Homo sapiens: one gene and its partner. The protein of the gene in region 2 purifies or fractionates together with the protein of the main gene of each other region. This does not show direct contact. Each region holds a gene or a part of one and is shown on either strand. Other genes may lie near its edges.

Region 1 (7,028 bases), on a different chromosome or scaffold from region 2:
AAGATAAAGAACACTGAGAGGAGACACTAATTGCCCAGGTCCCAATACAAAACTACTGTTCTTTCCACTTCACTGTATAACTAACTGATTTTAGGAAAATTTTTTGTTTTTTCTTTTGTTCTTCTTTTCTTTCTTCATTTTTTTATTTATTTTTATCTTTCAATGTTTAAATCATTTAAAGTAAGTTTGGTGGGGGAAGAGGATTATACAAACCTAAAATACAAAATAATTATATCATTCCATCTTTTCCTCAAACCCTTATTAATTTACATACGTAGGTTCTTCACAGTCATATTTTAGAAACTTTTTATTAACAAGCAACTGGTTCTTAATGGATGACATTGAAAACTGTTTTTCCTAAAAGCAACTATTTATTATTTTTCATATGTAAAGTGCCTGTCAAATCTTCCCATGACAATTCATCATGTGGGTATTTGCCATCTGAGTAAATTACATGTTTGATTAAAAAAAAAAAGTTCTGACATCTGTGGATAATGAGTTAAATAAAAGAAAATAATTAGAATATCTTATTCCCTTTTTTTTTTCACCTCCACCTAAAACGAAGGAATTCTATTCTTTCAATAAGCAAGTATTTATTGAATATTAAGGGAGGCATGGTGGAAAGCAAGGCATGGTGGAAAGCAATCTTACACTTTTAATAGTGGTCTTATCATACCTTATTAGAAAGGATTTGTCTTAAAAAATTGTCAGATATATCAATAAGATATGATTCCTAACCCCAGGAAACTTATAAAGTACTACACAAAAAACAAATAACTATAAATATAAAAGTGGAAAGGAATAAATGCCTTTAAAAAATATATGAAGTAAAGCAAAGAAAAATTAGAGAATTTCCAGTTGAGAGCAACAACATGCTTTAATAGGCATACTATGTGGGTGCCATGGCAACTATGACTTTTATTCACAAAAACCAAGGATTTGTATCACAGAGCTATTAAGAGTTCTCCTAACACACTACCTTCCTTTCTGGCTCTAAGATTTTGAACATACTATTTATTCTCTTTACTAGTATTATCTGTCTAATTCATTCCTTAAAATACAACTCCCATAAAATCTCCTTGATCTCCTTCCAACACTCTCACCACTTTCTGTACCCTACAAAAATATATATTGTTTTACTTGTCATATTCTGTAGAAAGCTACTTTTAACTACTTACTTATTAATCAGGTAAGTTTTGCCTATATGCAGAGAATTTACAACCACAATCTTTTTACCTGTGTATATTACAAGGCCCTTGGAAGTCACATTTTCGGCCAGGCACAGTGGCTCACACCTGTAATCCCAACATTTTGGGAGGCCAAGAGGGGAGGATTGCTTGAGCCCAGGAGTTCAAGACCAGCCTGGGCAACAAGGCAAGACCCCCATCTCCACAAAAAAAAAAAAAAAAAAAAATTACAAAATTAGCTGGGTTTGGTGGCATGTGCCTGTAGTCCAAGCTACCTAGGAGGCTGAGTCAGGAGGATCCCTTGAGCCCAGGAGGTCAAGGTTACAGTGAGCCATGATCACACCACTGCACTCCAGCTGGAGTGACAGAGTGAGACCCTAGTCTCAATTAAAAAAAAAAAAAGTCATATTTTCCATCATGGAAAATGTATATTTTATACATACAGTTATAAACAGAGAAAAAAAAATCTGGATAAAATAATGCAAACATAAACTATTCAAACAATTGTCACTCGATTCATCTACAGTCCTTTTGAATTAAGCAAGTTAACCTGTAAAGTTCAAAAATACTACACTGAGTTTTAAAAATTTGAAATTCTAATTCTTGCAAAACTAATCATAATGTTTTCAACGGCAAGCAGAGAGGGGAAGAATTCTATCAAATATAAATATTTATAATAACTGGGACCCCAACCACAAATCATGAACACAAAACCCCCAAAATACCATTTCAATGGAAAATATACAGTTATACTATAACTGAACCTAAATCTTAAAAGAGAAATAGTTTTCAGTACCAAATTATGAAGTACTTTGAGACCACTTCTCCCAATTCCTTATATAGCAGAAAATGCTATTCATTAATATCCATTTCTCTTTTATAAAATTCTCTAGTTTTAGCTAAGCATATGATTATCCAGCTAGATATATTTCCCAGACTTCCTTTCCCAGCTAAATATGTCCCAATGACTAAATGATCACACATAAACCATGAGTCAAAGTGCTATGTGCCACTTCCATATCATGCTCTCAAAAGAAAGAATATGCACTCCCATTGTTCTTTCTTCCTTGCCTCTAGCTAGTAAAACTAGAGAGTAATCATGTTTCACCTAGTGATGGAAGCCATATGTTAAGGCAAAACCACTTACAAACTCTAAACAGTCTTACTTTGTATGGTTACATGAGAAAAAAACATGTGTCATCTTTAAACAACAGGAATGGAGTCTCCTATACTGTGGCAGCTTAGTTTTTACTCTAATGGAATTCACTTCTGACATTTACCACCTAAAAGGAAATAAAAGAGTTCAAAAGCAGTCTCTCTTTTCCCTTACATGCTTTTTCCTATGACATTCTATCTAATAAGAGTAACAGGGCAGATATACATCTAAGGCTCCAAAGCCTTAGCTGGGAATAAGCTGCAGCAGTCAAGTCATCCTTTATTGTTCCATCAAACTCTTTCTCCTGGTCCTCAAAACAGCAGATTCCCTTTCCATCTTTTTAGCTTTATCCTTCTACAAAATGGTAGGCATTATCACTGAGAATTACTGAACCAAAGAAAGTTCCTTTTACAGCTTTGACAGTTCTGAGGACAACTATTCTAACATACAAATCAAATTTCTTATTAGAATGTTAAATTATTAGAATGCCAAGAGTGATGGACACATAATTTCTAGGTATCAAACCAGATAATACTTCCCCAAAGTAGCATAGGGCTATACAAACAACAAAGAAAGGGAGAACGGATCATATATAGTAAGACATTATGGCATTACTACCTCACATCACCATCATACAAAGGGGTCCTCTCTCCCAAATACAGCTAGTTACTACCAGTTATTGGATATAAAAGAACACAAAATGTTTCTTATAATATTCTGAGCAATGGAAAACTGCAGACATGAATAAGTGCATATTTCTGATGGCAAAGTTAATAAGTCATCTTCATTTCCCAGATTCTCATATTCATATAGGTCCAACTATAAAGACTCTCAGGAAGGTATAACTGTTCCCTTAGGCCTATGGTATTTTTTTTTTTTTTTTGAAAAGTGGCTGAGGTACCTGAGTCATCCTCTTAAAGATTCTAAACTCCAAATGATCGAAATTTAAAATTGAAACATTCACACCATATAAACAAGCACTAGTAGCCCTGATCTACTTATTCTTAACTGAAAGTGCTCCCCAGCACTCACTCTCTGTCTCCAATACAAAATGGTTTCCACCATGCAAGCTGAATCATCTATAAAAAGTTTAATTTTCTTTGTTTTCAACAAATTAAAATGCCTGGAGGAGCCCCTGATTTACTCTGTGGATGGCAGGACAATCTGAGAAAGAACATGGCAAAGTAATGTTTAAATACTCTTGGCCTCTCTAATAAAATATAAGGTCAAACAAGCAAGAAGTTTAAAAGAGAGTTCCACTAAAGGATAGGCAATTTCTAAGTACTCTAGGAAAGTGACAAGGACTATGGTCTCTGAAGCTAATTAATGACATTAAGGTAATCTGTTTAAATAATGTTAAAACATCACCTAATTTTTCAATCAATAATATGCCCCACAACTGTTAGAAACTCAAAAGGCAGGAACTTTATTCTCAAGCTTCTTTATACATGTGACTCCCTTGAAAAACAAGGTATGCAGCCAATGCATAAATTTTCCATAGGCCTCAAAACCTAAAAGAAAAAATTATAATAGAAATCCTTCTAAACTAAATCACACGCTCATTTCCCTTCTGAAATAGGTTAAATATAACAATATTCTCTGATTCAGAATCATTAATAAAATCATCAATTAATAATGAACATTCTATAACTACTGATTCAGCTCTGGGAATACTGATTCCCAAACTAAATAGCCTCATAACTAAGTTTATAAATTATTGCTTCTAACAGTAGAAATATAACCCTCCTTTACTATCATGATGCTGGACATCATTTCTTTTCCCTACCAAAATGCATTTCTCAAGTAGCACTTCTAATTTTTTACTCCTCATCTGTTATAGTCTAGAAACCAAGTATAATAATAAACCAGAACTAGAAAAAGTTCTCAACTTTCACAAAAAAGTAAAATATCTAAGCTGTTATAAGCAGTGTTGCTTGAAAAAGACCCAAAGGCAGGGATTTTTCATTAAAAAAGATAAACTGCTTAAGAAAGGCCAATAATATCTTAATATTTTATATCCATTTTCTAGATTTATTTTCATAAAGCCAATAATATTTTATCATTTGAGTTCTATATTTCCGTGATTTCTTCTTTTCATTCCTCCACTAATTTACAAGTTTAGTTCAATAAAAATGTTATTTTGGCAATAAACTGACTCCTGAATCAATTATTTAAAAGATATAAAGTAGAATTACAGCTGAAATACATCCTTATTAATCAAGATAATCTTTTTCAATGCAATCAGCATAAAAAAGAGATTTAATGGAAAATAAATTTATTCTAATAATTAGGGAAACATCCTTATCAGAAAATATAATAATTTAATGATACCAAGGAAACTAAAATAAAAATTTTTTATCTTTATTATGAGATTAAGCCTCACCCTGGCCAGAAAAGGAGTAAGGTACCTTTTCAAATTCCTCCATCAAAAAAAAAAAAAATTGTCTGTGTTTAACAAAAAAGGATTTTGATTTCGAATATTGTACAATACTTTATTTTGCGACTTATTTTTCCCACGTCTAACTTCATACTGATACTACTTTTATGTCATCATGTCCTAAACCAGATTGAAAACAGAAATATAACCTTATATTGTCTCCTAATTCATCCCTACTAAAATTATAGCTGCACCAAGAAAACATCCTCCTGAAAAGTCACAGATACCACAAATTCTCCCAGAGTTCCTAGGAAATAGTGCTTTTTGGTAGTCTACAGGAAGTGTGTAATACCGATGAATTAAAAAAAATAGTATAAGGTTATAAATTCACCCAATGTAAATTTAATGGAATTGTAACCAAAACCATTAGCTGGCTTTTTTTTCTTAATTAACCAAATGAACCTAAAGTTGATCTGCAAAAACAGTCAAAATCAGCTATGAAAATTGTAAAATAGAATTGTGAGTGGGTATTGGATTTTATATAGGATATAGCACTACAAACACATATTTAAATTGTGTACCGTCCTACAGCAAATAAAACAATGCAATAATGCTCTAAGAATAAGGCCCAGATACAGTCATTGTCAACCTCTGTTTAAACTTTATATCATATATTCTTTTGAGAAGCTAATGAAAGCTATCACTTTTTCCCCAGAAAAATGCACATAGGAGGCCAGGCGCAGTGGCTCACACTTGTACTCCCAGCACTTTGGTAGGCCGAGGCAGACGGATCACCTGAGGTAGGAAGTTCGAGCCAGCCTGACCAATATGGAGAAACCTCGTCTCTACTAAAAATACAAAATTAGCCGGGCATAGTGGCACATTCCTGTAATCCCAGCTACTCAGGAGGCTGAGGCAGGAGAATCATTTGAACCTGGGAGGCGGAGGTTGCGGTGAGCTGAGATCGTGCCATTGCACTCCAGCCTGGGCAACAAGGGCGAAACTCCATCTCAAAAAAAAAAAAAAATGAACATATGCAGACTTACATAAAATTGTGTATATCAAGGGATCGGTGGAACCCCTAGAGGACAATGGACCCCAGGTTAAATATACCTAGTATATGAATCAGAATTGTTTGCTACCAAAGCAATAAGAAATGGATCAAGTCTATGGAAACTAGATATCTGGAAAAAAATGGAAACTAGCAACTTATCTTAACACACAATATGTCAAAACACAGATATGTCCACATAGATGTAAAAGTATTTTTTAAGTTTATTAAAACTTCCAGAAAAAGTTCTAGTAAAAAATTAACAAAACACATGAACAAGGCTGTGCACGGTGGTTCACACCTGTAATTCTAGCACTGTGGGGGCCAAGGCAGGCAGATCACCTCAGGTCAGGAGTTCAAGACGAGCCTGGCCAACACGGGGAAACCCCGTCTCTACTAAAAGCAGGGCATGGTGGTGCACGCCTGTAATCCGCTACTTGGGAGGCTCAGGTAGCAGAATCGCTGGAACCCAAGAAGAGGTTACAGTGAGCCAAAATCACACCACTGCACTCCAGCCTGTGAGACAGAGCTAGACTCCACCTCAAAAAACAATAATAATAAAATAAAATACAATATAAACATACAATTCACCTTACAACAGGTAATATTTTCTGGGCAGACAAGTGCTGTAGAAATCATAAAGGAAAAAGGAAAGGCAGTACAGGCTGGACATGGTGGCTCATGCTTGTAATCTCAGCACTTTGGGAGGCTGAAGTGGGAAACTCTCTTGACCCCTGGAGTTCAAGACCAGCCTGGGCAACATAATGAGGCTTTGTTTATTAAAAAAAAAAAAAAAAGAAAAAATTAGCGGGGTGTGATATCCTTCACCAGTAGTCTCAGTTACTCCAGTGGTGGGAGAATTGCTTGAGCCTGGGAGGTCGAGGCTGCAGTGGGCAGAGATCACTGCCACTGCACTTTAGCATGCGCAGCAGAGCAAGATCCTATCTCAAAAAAAAAAAGGGGGGCAGTACATTTTACTACATAAAAATGCAAAACTTCTTAACATATACAATCATAAACCACTTAAAAGGTAATTTTAAAATTACTGTGACAAATATTAAAAGCTAAGGACCCCAAAGCCGTAAGTAGCTGTTACCAACAAATAAGAAAAACAGTAACACTCATCATAGAAAAATACACAAAAAGTCAAACAGCTAATTCACAGAAAATGAAAAAAATGCATATATAAAACAATAACAAATTCAACTTCACTAGTTATCAAAAAAAGTTAATGAGCTACTATTTTTCACCCATCTA
Region 2 (7,456 bases):
CTTACAGGAAGTCTAACTCTAGGGAAGATTATTGAGGGAGAGGAGATTTAAATTCGATACACTAAGGACAGAGAAAAACATCTGCTTCAATAGAAAACTGCACTGTTGAGAGCACAGCCTTTCAGGTTTTCACATTCTGATTACATGGGAAGTCTGATTCTTTCAGCATCTTGGAGCTATTTTACAACTGTCAACTGTAGATAACCAACAGCAATGCAAAATAATTGTCTGTATTCTTGTAAATTCTATCTGCTGAAGGTTCAATGGACTTCCGTCTGACTGTGGAAGCAGCCAATTTTGCCCTCACTTGCACATTTATTTCAATATTCCTGCTCTATAAACATGTCTACTTTTAATTGTCATTTAAACTGGTTATAGCATCTTACCAGTTCCTATTTTAATAATCTTTTAACGCAAGAAAAGATTAATTTGCTCCAAACACTTTGGTCAATATAAAACCTAGTACTCTTCATGGAAGAAAAAAAATCCAGCTTCTTATAGGATAACAAGCAAACCAATAACAAAAACCCCAGTTTTAGAAAGATTCACCATGGTATAAATAAAATCCAGGTTTTCAATACTTTTCAATGTCAAATAATAAAAACACTTTTTGGCAAGTTGAATTTTGCTTGAGCCCTGTGCTGGCTCCTTATTAGCTATAATTTAAAAAATCCTCCCACCCTTGAGTTAGGTAAGACTCAAGGATCCCCCCTTGTTTACCTATGACCAGGCAAAAGAAAGACCCTCCAAATTCTCATTTTTTGCTTCAACTATGAATTTATGAATAATTTGCTGATCTGCTTGGCCCTACAGATCAAGTGGAACAAAATACTTGTTAATCAAACTTTAGTTTCTCTCCTTCCCCCAGGTTCCTGAGCTTTGGCCAACTCTCAGCCAGAGCCAAGGAATAACATTCTCAGATCTACTATTAGATCAAGCCACCCTTATATCCTACTTCCTCACACCAAAACTTTCTAGCACAGTTCACTCCTTGGAGATTCTTGCAGATCTTTTGGTTCTACCCATTGCAAAAGTCCCTTTTCTCCTTTTGTGATAACCCTTTTGAATAAAGTCTCTCCTAAGTCCAGATTTCTTATCTGACATTGTCTTTTAAAAATTCTGCATAGGAGAAAATTAAGACTTTCTGCTGCCTTAGGATTGACATCACTTTACTTTAGTGCCTAAATACAGCATGTTTTGTATTCTAAGATTAACATTTAATATTTTTGTAGCACTACCTAAGAATCAAAAGAGAATGAAATAAATGTAGAATACTTTGATTAGACCTCTCCTACTACCTTAGGCAGTAAACAAAAGTATTTGCTCCTCATACAATTTGAACGCTGCCAGCTCAGGGAATTATCCAGCTTTACTTTAAAACATCAGTAGTTTTAAAGAGTTCTTAAGCATTTTCTCTTGCTGCCCATTACCAAACGGTAAGGAAGGTAGATTAGGTTGAGGAAGCTGAGAAAACTCACACGCGGCCATGATGCTTGCAAGGTCTAGGACATTATCACAGGGGTTTCGGGGTGTTAATGCAGAACACCCCCCCCACCACTAACAAAACAGCAAAACAGCCACTAACAAAACAACAGCAGAGGGAATTGAGGATTAATTAGGGAACTCACTTTTTCTTCCTAAATTTGTAGGGGAGATGCAGAAATACCCGTTCCAATATGTTAATTTCCCTTAACATAGTTTTTTAGTTTGTTACCAGTCTCCTTATTAGTGGGAAAAGTAACATTTAGAGGAAATTTAACAAAACAAAAAATTTACTTCGTTTTTAGGTCAACTGATGTCTCTTTTATGAAAAACATAAAAAAAGTTTTCATGAAATGTTTTATGAAAAAAATTAAAGGCTTTTCTTGGCATAGGGTCTTACAACTTACACAGCGTCTTCCCAGATTATCTCTTATTTAATAAAAATATAATTTAATCTACCCCTACTCCCCAAATCAGGAGCTTTAGTTATGGGTACATACGCCTACAAAAGTCACGCATCCTGCAACTGTGAACTTTTTGTGCCTGTCATCTTCAAATACTGATTACCTATAACATGACAATTGGCCCAAAGGCAAAGAGGAGAGTCTCAATCCTCAGGAAGATCTAGGTACAATAAGAAAGGTAAAGGCAATTTAAAACAAAAATATAGTCCATAACACCATTGAAAAGATTTGGTTCAAGTGTGGTAGTCAGGACATGCCAGGTACAGTGCTTAGGGCAAACATCATTTCAGGAACCTTCATAGCCACCCTGAGGAAAGTACTATCATTCTCATTTACAGATGAAGAAACTCAAGCCTAGAGCTGTTGTTATCATGCCTAACAGAGTGCCCCCAAACCCTGCAATGATTCCCAACCCAACCCTGTAAGAGGCCACATACATTTCTTCCTTAGTTCACGGCTATTTACAAATGACTAAAACCACCAGATCCGTCCAGTGGGCACCTACTAAGTTCATGGTACCGGGATGGAAAAATAAACATTAGCCTTTGGCCTCAAACGGCCAGGGTTGAAAGGATTCTGATTTGAAAAATTAAAAACAAAAATAGCAGAGATAAAGGCTGTCTACGGAGTTCAAGGCCACAATAACCCTAAGTAGTTCACGTCAAAATCGTAGCTTTGAAGGTCCTGGGCCTACAGGACAGGCGACGACCCTCAGAGAGGTCAGAGGCGGCAGAACCTGTGCTGGGCTTTGACACAAGGCGTTGCGTCGCAGATGAACTACGCGGGGGTAGGGGTGAGAGGCCCCGGCCAGCAGCTGGAAATCCCCCTCACGTGTGCGGGCCTCCTCTTCCACCTCTCCCCGGGTTCCCCCGTTACGCCGCCGGGCTCCCTCGCCACCCAGGGGCCTGTCTCCACTCTCCCACTCCTCTCCAGGGCCTCCCCCGTTCCCCTTCCACCTTAGCTTGAGCTCTCCTCCGCCCGGCTTCGGGCAAGATGCGAGTCCACACAGGCCACACTCGACCGACCGCTTCCCAGCCAGTCCCCGCGCTACCACTGAGAGGACGGCAAGCGCGGGCTAGAGGAGCTCAACGCCACCACAAAGAGACGTCCGGGAGAAGCCTAGAGCGGACACGAGGCTGGCCGCCTCCGGGGACGGAAGGGGCGGGGCGGTGTGAAGTGGCAAATGATTCAAGGCGAGGCAAGAGGTGCTTCAGATGCTGTCTTTTGCAGTCCTCCGAGAGGTTAGGGATGTGGGAGGTCCCTGGGGGCCATCTCTTACAAGACACAGTTTCCACTAAATTGGATCGTATTTGTACATCTCTACACCTGTGCGTGATAGTAAACTTTTGCACCCAAATACCCCGACCCCTGAAGGAGAGTGTGAGTTAAAAGGATCTGAAGAACGGACCCTTTGTTTAAGGTCTCACATTCTATTTCTTTAATTCAAGCGAAATATATTCCAAAATGCATCTTTTATTGTAAGCTATAAAAATAGCTATTACTTCGAGTAAAATGTAGGCTCCAGGAAGATGCTTGTAAATTTTCTCAGAACAGAAATGGTATTTTTATTGTATCCTTATTGTCTGTCACAGTATAGGTGCTCATTAATTTTTAAAGTGGGTTTTATTATCTAGAATCCAGGAGAACTGAAAGTCTCTTAAAGATTCTTGGCCTTTTAATTATCTTAAGGTCGGGATAGCAGGGAAACAAAAACTTGTTTTAAACTCCCAGTGAAAAATGAGGAACAGGTAAATAAGACAAGCCCCACCAAGGCCCAAGCGTGCTAGTAATTCTCTGCATCTACTGTAAGCTGTTTTCTGCAGTGCGTCTATGGTCCTCCCACCACTTTCATACTGCTCGCCGACTAGGCAAGCGATTTGATGCCTAGAACTAGGGAATGACAGAAAGGAAAAAACAATGAATAGTTTCTTCAACTGTGTCTGCAGGAGGTTGCATTCTGTAATTCTTTTACTGTTTACTTTGTGGTTGGCACTTTGTTAAGCAATGATTAGACAAAAACAAAATTTATTTCTGCTTCCAAGGAGCTCACAGACTAGTGAGAGAGGAATAAACAGTTAATCACAGTGTGGTGTGAAAAGTGTCATAACAGAAACACATGGATATAAACAGGATAAAATGATAGGGGCTAAAGCAGGAGCGTTCTGGGAGGAGATTAATGCCTGCATGGAACTTAATTTGATGCAATTGTGACTTCCTAGTAAACTAGGCAAGCTATCCTAAAGGTAATGAAACAGAGAAGGCTCACAGATCAAATTAAGATTATTAAATAATATAGCCTATTCAATTTAAGTATCCAGTGAAAAGGTGAAAGAGTTGTGGTAAGTGGACACACTTAGGATAAGGTGCAAGCAAGTGGAAGGACGCCATCACCTGAATCATGGGTTAAGTAATGTTCATATATCCTATCTGCCACAACAGCCTTCTCCGCTGGTGGTATACTTACGAGGACCAGAGGTGAGGTGTCAGCAAGGAGGCCCACAGGTGGAAAGTGCTTTGGGCCAATGGTACACACCTGCTTTATTGGATAGACGCAGAGAAGTATGCCTGGTCACAGCCAGAGCTTACTCGGTAAGTTGTTGAACAGATACAGGTTTTATTTGCATTTCCTGGGCAGAGCACATATGAGACTATTCTAAGTGTGACCAATGGGTGGCTGATTTAGAGGTGACATAGTTAATAGCCCAGAGATGTCATGATTGCTCATTGCTTAGTTTTTCCATCCCTTTTTGGCTATCAGTGACTCTCTATTCCATCATATTTCTATTTAACTTTGGCATGTCTTATAGTTTACTAACTTACTCTATATATTTTACATAATCCTGCCTATGTTTCACAAAGTACATGCTTACTCATATTCTATATTTAAAATATGCTAGGAGTTTTGCATTTATCTCATAAGCTACTAGCTTAGTTACTGTCTATAGTTAACACTTCTTACGCCTTTCATCCATCCCTAAGGAAACTGCAAAGCCTTTCAGTATGGGTAGAGTGGAAAGCTGGAAAGGCGCATAGGTAACAAATAATGCCCTTTTTATGCCATATTAGAGATACTGAATTTTAACCTGTGAAAACTGTAAAACTATCAGGAGTGTAGAGAATAGAAGAGAGGTGCGGTCCTGGGCTAGAGGGCCAGGTGGAAACTCTTGCCCTAACGCAGATGATTAAGAAGAGGGCCTCCATCAAGTGAGGCAGTGGCTCTATGGGTTGAAATGTGATTCCCTCCCACTCACCTCCTCCCACTGGATTTGGTAATGTCTAGAAACATTGTGGCTGTACCAGCAAGGGGTGCTACTAGTATCTAGAGGGGTAAAGGACAGGGTAACTGCTAAACACTTAACAATGCACAGGACAACCTCCCTCCTCCAACAACAAAGAACTAACTGGCTCAAGATTTCAGTAGAGCCAAGATTGAGAAACCCTAAATGAAGGACATTTAAAAGGCATAGAGATGATAGAAGTTAAGTAAGAATTGGTCAGATTTTTTAACTGATTAGATATAGAGGTTAGGAAGTAGTAAATAATTATTTCAGGTTTCTAGCTTGGATAACTGGGAGGTCAAAAGGAGGAATGGGCTAGGGAGAACAGAGATAAGAATTTAAATACTGAATACGCTAAGTTTTCTCAAACTTATCAAATGTACCTCCAAGTGAAGATATACAGCTGGCAGCTGGAAGAAGAGGGCAGGATAAGAGAGGGATCTCAGCTGGAAGATAAGAGTTTTGGGAGATGTTAGTCTGTGAGTGGTAGTTCTATCTTTGGAGCTGGGTGGGATAGGGAAGATGATACCTATGGAATGTATAGGGTAAAATGAGAAAGAATAGGGCTAAAGATTATTCTAAATTTCTGAGCTCTCGTTCTATTTTACTGAATCAGAATCTCGGTCCTCCAAGCCAGTCTACCAGATCATAATATCTGCAGATAAGATCCAAGAATCTGCATTTTTGGCAAGCAACCCAGGTGATTTTGCAGCACACTACGATTTTAGAACAACAGATTTAGGTCTCAGAAAAGTCTGAGAAGGAGCAGACAGCGAGGTAGCAAGAAAACTAGGGAAGAACAGAGACCCACAAACCAAGAAAGGAAAGTTTAAAGCAGGGCTCTGTCGGTGCAAGAGGTTGTTATAGAGCAGTACTGGCCATTAGAAATACAATGTGAGTCACATAAGCCATTGTAAATTTTCTAGTAGTGATATAAAAAGGTAAACAGAAGCAGATGAAATTAATTTTAGAGATAGCGCTTGTTTAACCCAATAATTAAGACATTATCATTTTAACATGCAATTAACATAAAAACTAATGAGATATGTCACGTCCTTTAATTCATATTATGTCTTGGAAACCTGGTGTGTGTATTACACCTCCAGTGCCTCTCAATTTGGTCTAGCTACACTTCAAATATTCAGTAGCCGCATGTGCCTAGTGGCTACCAGAGTGGATAGCACAGGTGTAGAAAGTCAAGTAAGGAAATAACTCATTTTCCAGCTCAGACTGAAATGAACTAGAAGGAAAATAAAAAGAACTAAATATATTCCTTAGCTGTACTAATAAGATAGTTATAGATGGTGTAATAAGACCTGTTTCAGTGATATGGTGATGGTAGAAGTCAGAATATACCCAATTAAAGAGCGGGAAGTTAGAGATGCTAACAGCTACCTGAGAGAACATCTTCAACAAGCTTTACTGTCAAGTATAAAGAGGCACCCCTTTTTTGTGTCTTTGAATGTGAATTTTAAGATTAAAGAACACAATTCAGTTTTAATTTAGGTTTTAGCAATTACATTTGGATTTCTGCTTCTGCAGAATTACCCTATCACTAGAAATATCTGGAAAATTGAGCATAATATGTGAAATGAATTGGGCACGGTAGCTCACAAGTGTAGTCCCAGCTACTGGAGAAGCTGAGATGGGAGTATCACTTGAAAAAAATATATATTTTATATATTACATACATGTATTTACGCATATATATAATATAAAATATATGATATGTATATATCATTTTATATATATTTATATACTGAATATGTTATATATAATATATAAATATATAGATATATAAAATATATGCATATGATAAAATATAATATTTATATTTTATATACATATATAAAATATATATTATAAATATATAATATGTATAAGATATATAATATATACACACATATATACATTCATATAAATCATAAGTATGTATACTTATACATATTTAGGAAAGGGTTGTATATATACATATACACATATATGTATGTATCTATGAAATCATTGTTTTCAGACATTAGCCAACAGGCAGTGCAGTATCGTGATCCCTGAGAGAAGGGAAACGAATGAATTAAGTTCCATAATGACCCCAGCTTACTATCTGGAGGCAGTGTCCAGAGCCTAGAACAGGGAGGGGAACCCAAACAAAAACCGGTGATTTCACTAAATGGAGGCGACAGAGATGGAGGTGACAGAGATGGGAAGTTGGAGAGGCTGATGGGCAGAGTATCT

The links. Proteins that work in one complex are often made in the same cells at the same time.
Region 1: the proteins of ARL14EP (region 2) and ATF7IP purify together in Homo sapiens (affinity purification with mass spectrometry; 3 studies listed by BioGRID and IntAct, with this or other methods). This does not show direct contact.

What each region holds. Positions count from the first base shown.
Region 1 is NC_000012.12:14,368,659-14,375,686, reverse strand, and holds part of ATF7IP (activating transcription factor 7-interacting protein 1), read right to left. Parts: intron 1-7,028. UniProt on the Homo sapiens protein: Recruiter that couples transcriptional factors to general transcription apparatus and thereby modulates transcription regulation and chromatin formation. Can both act as an activator or a repressor depending on the context.
Region 2 is NC_000011.10:30,318,649-30,326,104, reverse strand, and holds the start of ARL14EP (ARL14 effector protein), read right to left. Parts: upstream 3,002-7,456; 5' UTR 2,903-3,001; intron 1-2,902.